Regions from separate parts of the Homo sapiens genome. Here region 1 is linked to region 2. A link means that fine-mapping ties the variant in region 2 to the expression of a gene that starts in the linked region. Tissue or cell type: monocytes after R848. Region 2 holds a variant in brackets; the other region holds the start of a gene. All regions are shown on one strand. Distances are between the middles of the regions.

Region 1 (8,184 bases), 34 kb after region 2:
ACAGAATACTAAAAATAAGACAGCCAAAAGTATATTTTACTTTCCTTTAAAATAACCAATGGGTTAAAAAGGAAATGACCATGGGAATTACACAGTAATTTTTTAAATGAGAAGAAAAACATTATTTATCAAATTCCATAGATATGGAGTTAGGTAGATGAAAAATTTCATGATCTTAAAAAAATCCATTAGAAAATAAAAATTTAACATGAATAAGTTTAATGGTCAAGTCAAGGAAACAGAAAAAGAATAACATATTGCTACCAAGACAGTAGAAGAGAGGCTCTGGATTTGGCAAGATGGTAGACCAGATACCTGAGAACCTTCCTGCTAAAAACACATAGGTAAAATAAAACAGACATACTTTTAAATGTCTAGCTGGGCTTACTAAAGAGTAAAGGTGACTGCAGAAGCTAGAAATGAAGAGGAAAGGAATACTAGCAGGTAATCACAAGAACTCCTGCAGCCCAAAGGGTGGGGATGAAGGCAAGATTTTCAGTTTCATTAATCTAGGGCGGGAATTTGTCTGCTTTTTTTTTGGTAAAAGGTCAGATAGTGAATGTTTTAGCTTTGAGGGCCATCTAGTCTTTGTAGCAACTACTCAATTCTGCCATTGTGATGTGAAAGCAGCCCAGCTGATATATAAACAAATGGGCATGCTTATGTTCCAATAAGGCTTTATTTACCAAGATTAAGAGTGAGCTGGATTTGATCCTGGGGCTATAGTTTGCTGACCTCTCATGTGGGGCTTGGGTCTTAATGCCCAGGAGGGGATAGGAAGTATGGCCTAGTGCCTACGCCAGGCAAAGAGCAGAAACACACAAAACCAGGCCCTTGGTGAAAGGGTAGATCAGAAAAGTCAGCCCACTACACTGTGAAACAAAAAGAAAGCTGGTTTGTCTCAAGACTGAGCTCTGGAGGAGCAAAAATAGGTCTTCTCTAAACACTTTCAACCACAGCTGATCCTGGTGCTGTTTGAACTTCAAATTAACACTTATTATAATACTCATAATTGCTCTTGAGCCTGGGATATCCCTGGAGTGCCTGGCAGAAACAAAGCAAAAACATTTTCATGGCAGACCCCTTGAAGTTTGCTATGCAGAATTCTTACTGATAATGCACCACTAAAGTTGAACTCACAATCCAAAAAATATAAACTATGTAAGGAAACAATTCAACATCAGTGAAAACATATATGACAAATCTCAATCCTCAAGACTTCATTAAGTCAGAAATGATAGAATATAGTTATAAAATATGTACATTTAACATAAAGATATAAAATATTTAAAAATGAGAAGATAAGATATTCTAAAAAAGGCCAGACTTGAAAGAGAATTGAATACAACTTCCAGAAATTCAGCCCTAAATAGGAAAAATAAAAACAAACTCACTGAGATATGACATAGGGAAACTACAAAATACGAAAGACAAAAAGATCATAAAAGGGCAAATTACCTACAAAGGTAGCTCATCAGATCGCTCTGCAAACTCTTGGGTACACACGCATGACTCGAGAGGATGGGGCTGGGGTGGAGCATGTCCCTACCAGCTCCAGGTTATTTGTTTCCAACAGGTTTTCAGGCCCTTATAGAAGGCAGTCGGGTGGTGTCTTCTGGGGAAAATTATGCCTAATACAATGCTAGGGCTGGAGTGAGCACTGGCCTCCTTAGCATGAATTCTTCTCTGGCTCAGGACAGAGGCCAAGCTCTGGAAGGGAGATGACTACTTACCCATTGCCAAGTATCCAGTGGCACATTAGAGAATAGCCCTGTTCTGGCTGCCTAACATAAAGCTGAAGACTGTCTTGGTCCAGGGTAGATGATCAGAGTGACCAGGTGATAGGTGATCAGAGGGAAGGAACAGGCAGCAGGGATCATTTAGCAACATGCTCTAACTCAGAGTTAAAACTGGGCTCCTGCGAGGAGACAGGAAGCATAATCCAAACAACGCCACCTGAAGGAGCCCAAGTCTCCACACCCAATTCCTGTAGTCTAGACTTCTGCAATGCTGTGCCTGCCACGCTGGAATTCCACCAGTGGGACCCAGCCAGCAGCAGGTAAAGAAGCTCAACTTTGCCGATGTGCCCTCTCAAAGGATTAGAAACCTATACACTCCATCTAGTACCACCACCATTTTACACTACAATGCTTTATAATCTTAAAGGAAAAAAAAAACCAACTTTCAATAACCCACCTCACTTATCATCATAAGCATGTGTAATAGGTTTCTGATTACTTTCAATTTACAAATGATCAGAAATTTTTTTTTCCAGTGAAAATATATCAGAGTTGTGGTTTGAAACCAGCTTGTGAGATTCCAGATTTTGTATCCTTTCCACTACCTATGCATTAGGGAAACCCTATCATAGAATAAGAGCTTACAGGGTGATTATTAGTTGTTTCCAAATACCAGTGTTATAAAGATATTACAGTATATTGTTAATATCCATGGAACATCCATTTGCTTTTTTTTAGCAGACATCTGGTAGCCACTGTCCTCTTAGAATTTTGTTTTTTTCCTTCTTTTACTATGTATTTCAAATTTATTGCCAACTGTTCTCAGATTTTTCTTCTTAAAATCTCACAAATCCATTTTACCTCCTTATTCTCACCGGAGTTGCCTCAGAATCTCTGTAGAAGTAGCACAGAAGAAAAGCACTTCTCTGCAAAAAAAAAGTTCAGAGGCTTTTCTCCTCTCTTGTTGCTCCATTCCCCAATTTATTCTCCACTAAATTGACAGTGAACTTTCCAAAGTCCAAAGTTCCACATGAACTTTCCATGTCAGTGCCACTGCATCTATTTTATTGGCAGCTTGTTACTTTCCGGATGAAATCCAAACTCCTTAGCACAGCATAAATGCCTGCTATGGTCTGAATGTTTGCGTACCCCCCTCTTCAGCGCCCTCAAAATCTGTATGTTGAAACCGAATCACAATGTATTAAGAGTTAGGCCCTTTAGAAGGTGATTAGGTCATGAGGCTAGAGCTCTCATGAATGGGATTAGTCCCCTTATGAAAGAGGCTTGAAGGAGCCTGGTTGAGCCTTCAGCCATGTGAGCACCCACAGAAGGTACCATCTAGAGGAAGTAGGCCCTCACCAGACACTGAATCTGCTGGTGCCTTGATCTTGGATTTCTCAGCCTCTGGAACTGTGAGCAAAGCATTTCTATTGGGTATAAATTACCCAGCCTAAGGCATTTTGTTATAGCGGCCTGGATGGACCAAGACAATGCCCTTCAAGATCTTACGGCTACCTCTGTCATCCTCGTCTGGACACTTGAGCTCTTCGAGACTTGGGACTTCATCCTTAATTACTCTATCCCCAGTTTTAGCATGTAGCTTGTAGTAGATGCTCAGTAATTATTTGCTTAACTAATTAATCAAGTTATAGAAAAATGTGATGAGAACTTTTTTAGAAAAGAACTAGATCCCAAAACAAAACATTTAGAGTCATTATTGGTTTATTCTTGGGTGAAAGCATTTTTCCAATAGATATATTTAAATCTTTTTTTTTTTTTAAAGAGTGTTTTGCTCTGTCGCCTAGGCCGGAGTGCAGTGGTGCCATCATAGCTCATTGCAGCCTTGAACTCCTAGGTTCAAGCAATCCTCCCACTTCAGCCTCCTCAACAGCTGGGACTTCAGGTGTACAGCACTATGTCCAGCTAATTTTTTCTATTTTTTGTAGAGATGGGGTCTTGCTATGTTGCCCAGGCTGGCCTTGAACTCCTGGCCTCAACTGATCCTGCTGCCTCGGCCTCCCAACCACTGGGAGTACAGGTGGGAGCCATCATACTCAGCAGTTTTTTTTTTTAAAGAGATGGAGTCCTGCTATGTTACCCAGGCTGGACTCAAAGTCCTGGGCTCAAGTGATCCTCCCAAATAGCTGGGACTCAGGTGCACACCACCAGGTCCAGCTCTACAACAGGTATGCTTATATAGAAGAGTGAAGAATACATAAACCTTGATGAGGCTGCTAAAGTTTTAATTTCCCCTAGGAATCTAAGGCATCAGAAGACTATTTTTTAAAAGATTACGTATTAGATACAGATTTAAAAGATTATGTATTAGATATAGAAGATTAGATATAGAAGCTGACTCCTGTTAAACAAAATGGTGATAGTAAAATGAAAAGGAATTGTAAAAAGAGCAGTGTTATTTAAGTAAAACCATCTCTGTGGGTAATTGCTGCTTTGTTTTTCTATCTCCCCTTTCTATTCTTACGAGATAAAGATAGAAATTGAAATGGCAGTTTTGAAAGAAAGCTGAAAAGAAACAAGAGACTGGTTCAGCCTAGAAGGACAGAGAATCATCTATGTAATGTCCAGGAATAGTAGAAGAGAGGGTTTTAAAAAATAAAAGGTAACATTACATTGCTTATATATTTTGCATTCTATTTCTATGGTAATAGGTTAGCAAATCAGGTTGTTGCTAAGGGAAACAAGAATTTCATTCTGAGGCAATCATGAGAATTTTTCTAGAATCATCTCTTTATTGCTGTCTGCTCAGAACAATCAAAACTGGTAGCGGGAAGAGAATCAGTGTAGGAAGGCAACATTGACAAGGCCAAACAACGAAGTGGTGACTCACTGAGTCCTTGCACTCTCGAAGGAAACAACCACCTTAGAAAAAACCATGCACTTTCGGCGGGGGCTTAATCACATTAGGTGAGTAATCACCTCAAAGACCCAAATGGCAGCTCTGTTAATGTTCAGTCTGTATGGCCTTCTTTATATGTAAATGCCAAAACATTAATAACTACTAATAACATTAATAGAATGCCAAAAACACTGCAGGTACAAATATCTAGTGTGATGGATCTCTCCTCCCTTAGATCTTTACTCACATCTCACCTTTTTTTTTGAGAAGGAGTCACGCTCTGTCGCCCAGGCTGGAGTGCAGTGGCACAATCTCAGCTCGCTGCAAGCTCCGCCTCCCAGGTTCACGCCATTCTCCTGCCTCAGCCTCCCGAGCAGCTGGGACTACAGGTGCCCGCCACCACACCCAGCTAATTTTTTGTATTTTTAGTAGAGATGGGCTTTCACCTTGTTAGCCAGGATGGTCTCAATCTCCTGACCTCATGATCCACCCGCCTTGGTCTCCCAAAGTGCTGAGATTACAGGTGTGAGCCATGGCGCCCGGCCATATCTCACCTTCATTTATTTATTTATTTATTTATTTATTTATTTATTTATTTATTTAGAGTCTCACTCTGTCGCCCAGGCTGGAGTGCCTAGGTTCAAGCGATTCTCCTGCTTTAGCCTCCCGAGTAGCTGGGATTACAGGCGCTTGCCACCATGCCCGGCTAATTTTTGTATTTTCAGTAGAGATGGGGTTTCGCCATTTTAGCCAGGTTGGTCTCAAACTCCTGACCTCAAACAATCCAACTCCTCTGCCTCCCAAAGTGCTGGGATTACAGGCATGAGCCACCACACCCGGCCTAAATCTTACCTTCTTAATGAGCTTCCCAGGCCTTCCTATCTAAAATTGCACGTCCCTGCTACACTGTAACTTCCTAAACCCTTCCCTGGTTTATTATTCTCCTTAACCCTGATCACCATCTAACATACTATAGATGGTATTTTACTTATTTGTGTTTATTGTCCGTCTCTCATTAGAAAGTAACCTGAGTCTACAGCTATACCACCCTGAATGCGTCCAATCTCTTCTGATCTCGGAAGCTAAGCAGAGTTGGGCCCGATTAAGACTTAGATGAGAGCATGTAAGCTCTCAGTGATAGCAGGAATTTCTCTCCATTTTGTTCTCTGCCATCTCTCCAGCACATGGAATGGTGCCTACCATTCAATAGCTGTCCAAAAATATGTGAGTGCATTAGTGAGATCCATTTGGACCCACTGATGTGGATGAAGATGATTTTAGGCTGAAAACATCAGAAAAACAGCAGCAGCAGAAAAAAACCTTATCTAAATTTCTTTTGCGGACATAAGCAATGCCTCCTAAAATACATCTGCCATTTATTTCCTCTCCAGGAGGTTAATGACCAAAGAGGAGATAGACCACTTGCACCTAGAGGAGATGTTGCATAAACAAAACCTTATCAAAACTTTCTGTTCCTCACACTTATTTCTCATTAGTCTCCCACCATACACTTTCTTAAAGTCTTAACCCTCTTTCTTACTAAGATGATATATAAACACTCAACTCTAGCTGTTTAGGGAGCCAATTCTTTGTGTAAGTCTCTTTCATTGACTTAGCATTGACTACATGAATAAATTTTGGCTAGGCATGGTGGCTCACATCTGTAATCTCTGCATTTTGGGAGGCCAAGGCAGCAGCTTAGGCAACATGGTGAAACCCTGTCTCTATAAAAAGCACAAAAATTAGTCAGGCATGGTGGTGCACACCTTAGTCCCAGCTACTCAGAAGGCTGAGGTGGGAGGATCGCTTGAGCCCAAGAGATAGAGGCTGCAATGAGCCGAGATCACACCACTGCACTCCAGCCTGGGGGACAGAGGGAGATTCTGTTTCAAAAATAAAACAAAACAAAAGAATAAAGTTTGTCTGCTCTCCTGTCAACTTGTCTTTTGTCAGTTAATTTGCAGGCCCCTGACCATTGAACATAAGCTGGTACAAGAAAAAGGCTTTTCCCCGTTCCCAACAGAATGAATGAATGAATAACAAATTGATACTCATATCATACAACACTATAAGTGATGTATTTTCTCAGGCAGGGAAGTAACTGTGGGTATTCAGCTTCATATCTGCACAAAAATAGAAATAGGATGTTAAAAAAGAGTTTGCTACATGATGATTCCAAACTGACTAAAATAAATTCTGAACCATAATTACTAAGGTATATGAGGCCAATCATCAGAAAAGAAAACAGTAAGGTCTTCCATCTTCCTGCAGATATTTGAGTCAAATGAAAATAATGTCACTTTTTTTTTTCTTTTTTTTTTTTAGACAGGGTCTGGCTCTGTCACCAAGGCTGGAGTGCAGTGGCGCAATCCTAGCTCACTGCAGCCTTGACCTCTCGGGCTCAAGCAGAGAGGTCCATATGGATTGGAGGCCTTCTCCCATCCATATCTCTCTCCTCCCAGTTTGAGATATTAGGTTGGTGCAAAAGTAATTGTGGTTTTTGCCATTATTGCTACAACCTAATATTAAAACAACTCTGATTTTGTCACTGCCCAGCTTCAAACCCTTCAGATTGAATCTCTTTTACTTGGACACCTGGCACCATGTGAGCTCATGTGATTAAAAAGGGCAAAAAGCCACCATCCTGCCATGGGACATTAACAGTCCAGTCCAGTGCAGGCTACCAGATTACAATGCATGGAGAAGAGCTAGGCCAGAGGAGTGGGCCAAAATGCTAAGAGAACAGAGAAAAGCAAGAAGGGGAGTTGAGAAATGATTCAAAGAGAAAAGGACACAGGACCTGGATCTGAAAAATTAAGGCTTTGGTCACTAAGTGGGACTGAGGAGAAAAGTTTGTGAGGTTGGGCGTCTGCATGTCAAGCCCAGAGGCCGGAGAAGCATGGCCACCTGGAAAGTGGAAAGGAGGCTGGCACCGCTGGACCACAGAGTGGAAAGGAAAGGGGAAGCTACAGCCAGAGGGGGTGAGAATGTTGTATGGTGCAAATACTTCCTTCTACAAAAAGGAGCATCAGCTGGGCATGGTGGCTCGTGTCCGTAATCCCAGCATTTTGGGAGGCCAAGGCAGGCAGATCACTTGAGGTCAGGAATTCAAAGCCAGCCTGGCCAACATGGTGAAACTCCATACTAAAAATATAAAAATTAGCTGGGCATGGTGGTGCATGCCTGTAGTCCCAGCTACTTAGGAGGCTGAGGCAGGAGAATTGCTTGAACCTAGGAGGCGGAGGTTGCAGTGAGCCGAGATTGCGCCACTGCTCTCCCACCTGGGTGACAGAGTGAGACTCTGTATCAAAAAACAAAAAGGAGCATCAAAGGTTTTTAATCTGGGGAGTCGCAGGATTAAATCTGTATGAGAGATTTCTCTGATGATAACAGAGACAAAGCATGAGACATGTTAGGCTATGATAGAGGATGAAGACCTGAGATCAGGGGAGTGACCAAGAAGATGAAATGAAGGGGCTGCAGGAAAGAACGGGCATGAGGGATTAAGACGGGTTTGGGAGGGGTTTCTCAGGAATCTGGCTTGGGTTGCTGGATGCCTTTACTTTTAATGAAGACATGGAAGGCAGG
Region 2 (8,184 bases):
GTGATATGGTTTGGCTGTGTCCCCACCCAAATCTCATCTTGAATTGTAGCTCCCATAATCCCCATGTGTCATGGGAGGGACCAAGTGGGAGGTAACTGAATCATGGGGGTGGGTCTTTCCTGTGATGTTCTCATGATAGTGAATAAGTCTCATGAGATCTGATGGTTTTACAAATGGGAATTCCCCTGCACAAGCTCTCTTGCCTGCCGCCACGTAAGATGTGACTTTGCTCCTCATTCACCTTCCACCATGATTGTGAGGCCTCCCCAGCCATGTGGAACTGTGAATCAGTTAAACTTCTTTCCTTTATAAATTACCCAGTCTCAGGTATGTCTTTATTAGTAGCATGAGAACAGACTAATACATATAGTTTCCTCCGCATCCCAAGGATGTGCACGTTAGGTTCATTTGTGTGTCTACGTGGTCTCAGTGTGGGTGTGTGTGTGTATGTACCCTGCAGTGGAATAGTGTCCTTTCCAGGGCGGGTGCCCGCCTGGTACTGAGCTGCCAGAATAGGCTCTGGCCACCCATGGCCTTGAACTGGGTAGATAGTTATCTTGTTTTTATTCATCTTTCTTAAATGTATATAGAGTTCACATTTATTTCAATGTAGAATATTAGAAGTGTTTTAGTCTTTATTTAGGAGTTTGGTCATGTTTTTGTGACCAGAAATATGCCATAGGAACTTAACTCTTGTTTATGTCAATTAGTCTACGGCAAAACTGGTTTGGTTATATGTAATTTTGCTTCAGTCACAGTTTCCAAGGACTTATCAACTACATTAAGTGAAGACTCACTACAATTTACTTCCCTTTGCCCTTCACCCTCCTTTTAAATATAACCTTACAAGCTCAGGGGTTCTGTTGTATTTGCTGATGTTTCCCAAATGCTGAGAGGAGCGACTGGCAGGTAGCCTCATGCTAATGTCAGAATTAGCAACTCACATGGCTTAATGTGTGTTTATTGATGGAATGAATAAACAAATGAATGAAGAGTAAAAGAGGCTTGTAGGGGCTATTTGGAATGTCACCAATGTGAAAAATTTGCTTCTGACTTAAAAATAGCTTATGTTCAAAAATGCAATGAAAAAATCATTTCCCTATTTTCATATTAATATATTCCCTACCATAGGGTTTGCCTTCTTTTTTCCTGTGGGGTAGGTTTATCATGATGATCACTACAGGTTCCTCTTGCCTTTCACATCATCTGTGACAGCTGCAGGCGGTTAGGACACAGATAAAATATGTAACCTTTGGGAAATGAAGCACCTGGGAGAGGATTTACCTGAGCTAAAGATTCCATTAGGTTTCTCACAATTTTGTCTTGGTCTTCCGTCAGGATCCTGTGAAGGGTAGCTCGCCTCTCACTGTCCTTCCTCAGCATGAAGAATCCAGAATCTTTTTCTTCAGGGGAAGGAGGAGCACTGTGATCTTCAAAATTCTCATCTGGAATGCTGAGAAAATTTATGCAGCATAAATCACAGTTCCCTTTATAAAATGACACACTTAACAACACACTTCTCTCACCCCAAGTAAGTCAGGTCTTTACCCCAAAAAGAGTGTCCGAATTCCCTTGACATCTCTTTCTCCGCAGGACTTGGCTCTTGTTTTGAAAGAGAAGGGGTCCACTTTCAACTCCGTGTCGGGTGAAACTGAGCCGTACTCACTGCTGCTGCTGGTGTCCTCCACCAGCACAGGTACCGGCAAGGATATACTCCTGAGATATTCTGCTTGTGATGAGAGGAGGGAAAAGATAATTGACACTTTAAAAAATGTACACATACTGAAACACCCATTGAAAGAGGCCATATTCTTTGTCAAATATCTTGTTGCAATGAGCAGCATAATTATGCTATGTAAGGGAACGGTCATGTGTTATGACTGCCTCCCTTGCTCAGCATAACCCATACAGCAGGGTAGCCAGGAAAGGGCCTCCCAGGCCCTGGGAGGGATATCTCTGGGGTACCAAAACAGTCAAGGAAGCCCAAGTTCAGTGGGTCTACTGAGGGTCTGATCCCCTCATTTTTACTGACTACTAATTATTTCTATTTATGGGTCTCAGTTTTCATATTTATCAAATTCAGGGTCAGATTGATAATCTTTAAGCCTGTTCTTCAGGGGCTTAAGTGTCTCCATTAGCATCTTGGGGCTGCCTTGGTTGGGATGAGTGAGTGGGATGCTGTAGGTCTAGACCACAGGTTCCAATCCTGTTATACCTGAAACCAGAGAAAATATGCTGACTGTCATATATCACAGTTCTGCTTAAGGATTCATATAAAAAAGGATTCATCACTGAAAACAAATTTTGGAAACAGATGGACTAGATGATCTCTTAGGTCTGTCCTGGTTCTCAGATACTATGATTCTCTAGTAGACATGAGCTGCTTCTTTATTTGGATGGAGAATAAGACAGTGGAGTTGCCTATATTTCCTCAAACATTGGTTTTAAAGAAAGCTTCATAGGTTGCTCTGGGTGTCAACATCTTTCCAGCAGATGGGGAAGAAAGAGTAGGAGGATCTCATAGGAAGTTTTTATGAATCATGCTTGGGTGAGTTGCCACTCGGGCCCACCATCCATTGCCCAAGCCTCAGTCCACCAGCCACAGTTACTTGCCAGGAGGCTGGGAAACCCCAGAAGGAAAAGGAAACAGGTCTGGAGGACAGCTAGTCAGTCTCTGTATATGTATGCCTGAACAGTTCACAGAAAGAAAAACACAAAAAGCTCCCAAATGTATATAAAACTTCTCAGCCTCACTCCTAATGAGAGAAACGGGTATCTGAATCACAATAAAATACTGTCCATGATCTATCCTATGGACAGATATGCAAAAAAAAAAAAAAAAAAGAAAGTGGTTTTTGCCAGAAACATCTTTATCAAACACACATCCTAATGCTACAAAAGCATTTTAATAAAGAATGAAGGTATAAAATTATAGAAAAGGAAATCCACTGTTGCCTGGAATCTCCTTCTTACTTAATTCCTCTTGGGCTGAACTGAATCAACTGCCCTGATCTCAAGGATAGGGGACTCATGACATTGGTTTCAGCTGTAGCGAGAAAGACGGAAGTACATACAGCTTTCAGGAACAGCTGACCTCGGGGGAAACCACCTTACTGGTCAGTAACTGGAAAGTCTCCCCAGGATGAATTGGTTGACTTATCTGCTGTTATTTAAATAGTTCTGTAGCTGAATCACTAGAAGGCAGGAAGCAAGAGGAAGCCACAAAGAGTTGCTGAATTGACCAATTAAGTACCAGTATGCAAATGATATATGGCAGGGGAAATGCCTGGCATGTATTGTTTCCACATATTCTGGAGCAGCTCATGGGCCTAGCATTTCACGGACCATATTTTGGGCAGTGCTGCTACAGCAGAAAGGAAATGGGTGACCTCTTCCTTGCTGGTAATAGTAAGGTTGTCTGAGAGAAGAAAGGTTTGAAGGGGGGCCCAAACACCAAACTGCTTTTGAGTCATTCCTGGGGAAGGTCAAGGTCTATAGTGTGCCTTGTTTCACTTTAGAGTCAACATCTCGCTATTTGGGGGGAACGGACTTTAGAACAGAAAAAAATAGCTGCTTGGGAGAAAGAGTTTCACTGCTATGAGATGTCAAGTCCCTAAAGTTAAATGTTACTGATGGAAGAATACAGCTGAAGAAGAGCTCTTGGCTTGACTGAGTAGCTGATCTCTTTACAAGAAGGGATACAAGCCCTGCAGTGGAACTCACTGCTGATCCTT[C/G]AGACTTGGTGAGTTTCTTCACCAGCCCATTTTTATGAGATGCATGCCACACTCAGAAACGGAGGTGTGCATCATTCATATTTCAAAGACAAAATTGTTGTTTCTTGGGAGTAAAGAGACTAGTACAGACTAGACTAGAAGAGTACAAGATGAGGGATTCCTATCGTGTGTTTCCGTGTTTGTGTGTGTGTGTGTGTGTGGTAAATGTATGTGTATCTAAAGAAGAGAAGGAGTAAGGACTTGAATTATCCTGTATTTTGGCTTTTTGGTCATATCATGTGGTTTGATTATCCAGTAATGAGAGGACTTGTGTCACGCCTGTGAATTTTAACGTTGCTGTGACTACCGACTGCCTAAAAGGAGGCCTAATGAGGTAAAACTGTATATGCTTAAGGATGGAACCGAGTGCCTGTCACTATGGCTCGTTAAGGAAATAAAGGGACTTACAGATATTCTGCATGTTCTATGTGCAGAGCCCTGATTCCCTCCTCGGTTTGATTTTATTTTATTTTTGAGACAGAGTCACACTATTTTGCTCAGGCTGGAGTGCAGTGGCATGATCTTGGCTCACTACAACCTCCGCCTCCTAGGTTCAAGTGATTTTCCTGCCTCAGCCTCCCAAGTAGCTGGGATTACAGGCATGTGCCACCACCCCTGGCTAATTTTTGTATAGGGTTTCGCCATGTCGGCCAGGCTGGTCTCAAACTCCTGACATCAAGTAATCCACCTGCTTCGGCCTCCCAAAGTTCTGGGATTACAGGTGTTGAGCCACCGCACCCGGCCTGCTTGATTTTAAATGAGTGAACCTGATTCTAGATTGAGTCCCCTTCTCTATTAGGCACATGCATTCATTCATCCAACATACAGTTGTGGATCATCTACTATATGTCAGGTAGCCAGCAGGAGTTGCTGATGGACTGGAGTGAAGAGTGTGAAAAGGAAGAATCAAAAATGACTCCAAAGTAGAATTCTGGCCTAAGAAACTGAATGGATGCATATCGTACTTATATTCTAAGATGAGAAATAATACAGGCCAAAAAGGAAAGTTCTTTTTAGTGGATAAGGGGTGTTATTTGACAGTTCAGTTTGAAAAATGAAGACGGCAATTGGGCGGCTGGGCGCGGTGGCTCACGGCTGTAATCCCAGCACTTTGGGAGGCTGAGGCAGGAGGATTATCTCATGTTGGGAGTTCAAGACACCAACATGGTGAAACCTCGCTTCTACTAAAAATACAAAAATTAGCCTGACATGGTGGTGTGTGCCTGTAGTGACAGCTACTCAGGAGGCTGAGGCAGGAGAATTGCTTGAACCCAGGAGGCGGAAGTTGCAGTGAGCCAAGATCATGCCACTGCACTCCAGCCGCCAGCAAGACTCCATCTAAAAAAGAAAAAAGCAATTGGATATGAGTCTGGAGCTCAGAAGACTGGGCTAGATAGAACCTCAGCAGCCTACCTGGCTGGAGATGGTATTTAAAGTAAAGGATGACATAATTTGGGGAAAGATAAAAAGACAGCATAGACCCGGCCCTTAAGAATGCCAATATTTAGAGGAAAAGAAGGGGATGAACAGGCAGCCAAGGAGAATGACAAGGAGCAGCCATGAGGTTGGAGGAAAACAGAGAAAATGGGGTGTCATGGAAGCCCACACAGGAGAGGGCGAAAGTAAGAGAGAACAGTCATCCAGGCTGAGAGCCACTGAGAAGTTGAGTAGGTTGAGAAAGGCACTTGTTGGATTTGGCTAAAGAGATCTCATTAGATCTTGGCCAGAGCAGGCCCAGTGATCGCGTGGAAGGGGAGACGCTACATGGGTGGGAAGGAAGAGGTGGAGATCTGGAGACACTGTACTTCAAGACGGGAAGCTGTGATGTGGGGCAAAAAAAGGTGGTGGTGTCAGCCAGTGAGGCCATTTGTAGATCAGGGGAAGGACGGGTTTAGGACAAAAGACATTAGAGCATGTGTATATGGAACTCACTGGGAGAGGCAGAAGCTGGAGGAGTCACGGGGGCTCCACAGGAGCCAGAACTCATCTGTGAGGGATTGGCCTTCTGTAGGAAAATGGATGTTTTCTCTATTGTAAGGGGTGGAAAGAGCAAGACAGGTGGTGCTGAGACAGTTTGCTTTATACGTTTGTGGTGGAAATATGATCAAATCCACGCCTGAGATTTCTACCTTCTTAAGTTATGACGATTTCCAGGCAAGTGAGAATGCGTAGTGCCTTTCTGTGTCACTGTAAATGGGAAGAAGCTCAAGTGTAACTATTTCCAGGGGAGCACGGTGACAGTTTCCAGATATCACAGAGGTTACAAGTTCCTCGAACATAAGCTCATACACGTGAGTGATTGGGACCCCAGGCTGCAAGAGAGGAGCCTGGCAGGATTTCCAGTCACAGGCAGCCTTACTGCTGATATCTTGCCAGGTATTAAGAAGCCCTCCTCTATGGGGCTGACCACGAAGAGTCTAAAAGAGGCTGAATGAACCTCTCTGAGGATAGGACATGTCAAAGGTGTGTCTCTAAGGAGATGATTCTCATTGCCTTATTTCAGGGGCTGATGGGAAGGGGTGTGAGCCCCATATCCCCTAAGAGATAGCTTTACCAAGAGGCCAGGAGTAGGCTGGAGTCAGGAGGGGTGACTGGCAACCCTATGGACTCCAGATTGCTGGGAGCTCCCATCTATGGAAGGGAGACAGTGCGACCTTTAAGGAATTAGATACATTCCTGCTTTGGGAAAACGGGGATTTTCTAAATCCCTTCCATTGCTGTGAGGGTGGCCTCAGATCCTAACAGCTATTCATGATCACTAGGGATCTTTATGGTTCTCCTTCTCCTAGACAGTTTAGGAACAGTCTGGCCACAACACAGAGTCTCCTAACTGGCCATCCTGCCTCCAGTCTCCAACTGGCCAAACATAGAATAGTGGTTCTCACACTGCAGTGATGACAAGAATCATCTGGGTTTACTTAAAAGTACAGAATTCCAGCTTGCACCTCCAGATTCTGAGAAGGGCCAGGCATTTTAATTTTTAACAAGCATTGCAAGAGATCCATGCAGGCAGGATCTGGGACCAACTGAGGCATAGCTATATTCCTAGTGCCTTGTGCCTACATTCTAGTGCCAAGTGCATAGCAGAGGGTTAAAAATGTTATGGAATAAATCTTACTAAATAAACCATCCTCACACAGCCATCGGAATGATCCATCAATAGCTTCACTGTCCAATATGGTCACTACTACCCACATATGGTTATTAACACTGACATTTAAATAATAAAAATTCAGTGCCTCAGCCATGGTAGCCATGTTTAGTGTCTAATAGCCACATATGACTAGTGGCTAATGTATTGGACAGGGCAGATAAATGACATTTCTCTTACTGTAGAATCATAGGTCCAGTGCTGGTCTATAATATTATTTCAGATAAAAATTTTCCCCGGCTCCCCAACCCTCCTTGCTGATTCCTTAACATTTCATAAGGAGCCCTTTGGGATCTGAGCCTGCTCCCCACTCCAGCATCATCCCTCCCCTTTTACTTTAAGCACCAGTGCTGCTGAGCCAGCAAGCCTCCCTTAACACACAGTAAAGTTTCACACATCCTGGCATTAACTCATGCGAGAAGTCGCCTCACCTGGATCTCCACTCCCCATTCACCTGTTAAGTTCATATTTGTCCTTACTCATCAGGTGCACCTCACTGGAAAGTCTGCCTTGAAACAGCATTCTCAGACTGACTTCAGTCACTGTCTCTCCCTTTTGACTCCTCTGCACAGACTAAACTATACTATGGTGGAGATGATTTTTTCCAGTGTTTTTCTCCTATAAGGTCAATGGCTCTTTAAAATCAGGAACTCTGTCTTTATCATCCTTATACGTTCAGGGCCTAGCACATTTCCTGTGCACACCATAACTGTACAATTAATATTTAAGCTGACATGAATTACTTAAATCTCTGGGTCTGTGTGTGGCCATGGAAGAGCAGTCAGGATGAGACAAGTCATGTCCCTCTCTAAAGGGGAAGGGGGTCTCATTGTCACCACCCTCTTACTCCCCTCTTGAGGGGAAGCCAAGTGCAGTTATGGGAGGTAGAGAACCTTGAGAGGTGGGCCTGTGCTCTGGACAGAAACACATATATGGCCTATAGAAAGTACCTGGGGAAGGAAGAGGCCTGTATCTTGTACTCATCTAGAAGGAGAGTAAGACGAGCTAATAGGTCATTGTTTCAATTGACATGAGGCAGGCCATTTCCTATAATACCTGGGAACAATCAAATGGGATTTTAGGCAAGGCATGGTGGCACATGTAATCCCAGCACTTTGGGAGGCCGAGGTGGTAGATCACTTGAGGCCAGGAGTTCCAGACCAGCCTGGCCAACATGGCGAAACCCCGTCTTTACTAAAAATACAAAAATTAGCTGGGCGTGGTAGTGGGCACCTACAGTCCCAGCTACTCAGGAGGGTG

Alleles and levels. Positions count from the first base shown, and alleles are read on the strand shown. Sizes are in standard deviations (SD) of each study's normalised expression.
With allele C in place of G in region 2, the expression in monocytes after R848 of the gene that starts at base 4,502 in region 1 is higher (large effect, 1.1 SD a copy in Quach 2016).

What was found. PIP is the estimated chance that this variant, and not a neighbour inherited with it, causes the effect.
Region 1: MAP3K5-AS1 starts here. The variant in region 2 is fine-mapped to the expression of MAP3K5-AS1 in monocytes after R848 (Quach 2016, PIP 0.90).

Annotation. Positions count from the first base shown.
Region 1 is chr6:136,624,613-136,632,796 of GRCh38, forward strand. MAP3K5-AS1 (MAP3K5 antisense RNA 1) reads left to right here and starts at 4,502. Exons shown (of 3, transcript NR_125858.1): 1 at 4,502-4,664. The region is part of intron 14 of MAP3K5 (mitogen-activated protein kinase kinase kinase 5); the gene reads right to left. It also overlaps the pseudogene RNA5SP219.
Region 2 is chr6:136,590,889-136,599,072 of GRCh38, forward strand. It overlaps MAP3K5 (mitogen-activated protein kinase kinase kinase 5), which reads right to left. Exons shown (of 30, transcript NM_005923.4): 22 at 1,549-1,726; 23 at 1,285-1,453. Among named protein-coding and RNA genes, the nearest start is that of MAP3K5-AS1, 34 kb to the right of the region's middle. RefSeq lists an enhancer at 3,601-3,760. The variant C/G (reference allele first, on the strand shown) is at 3,735.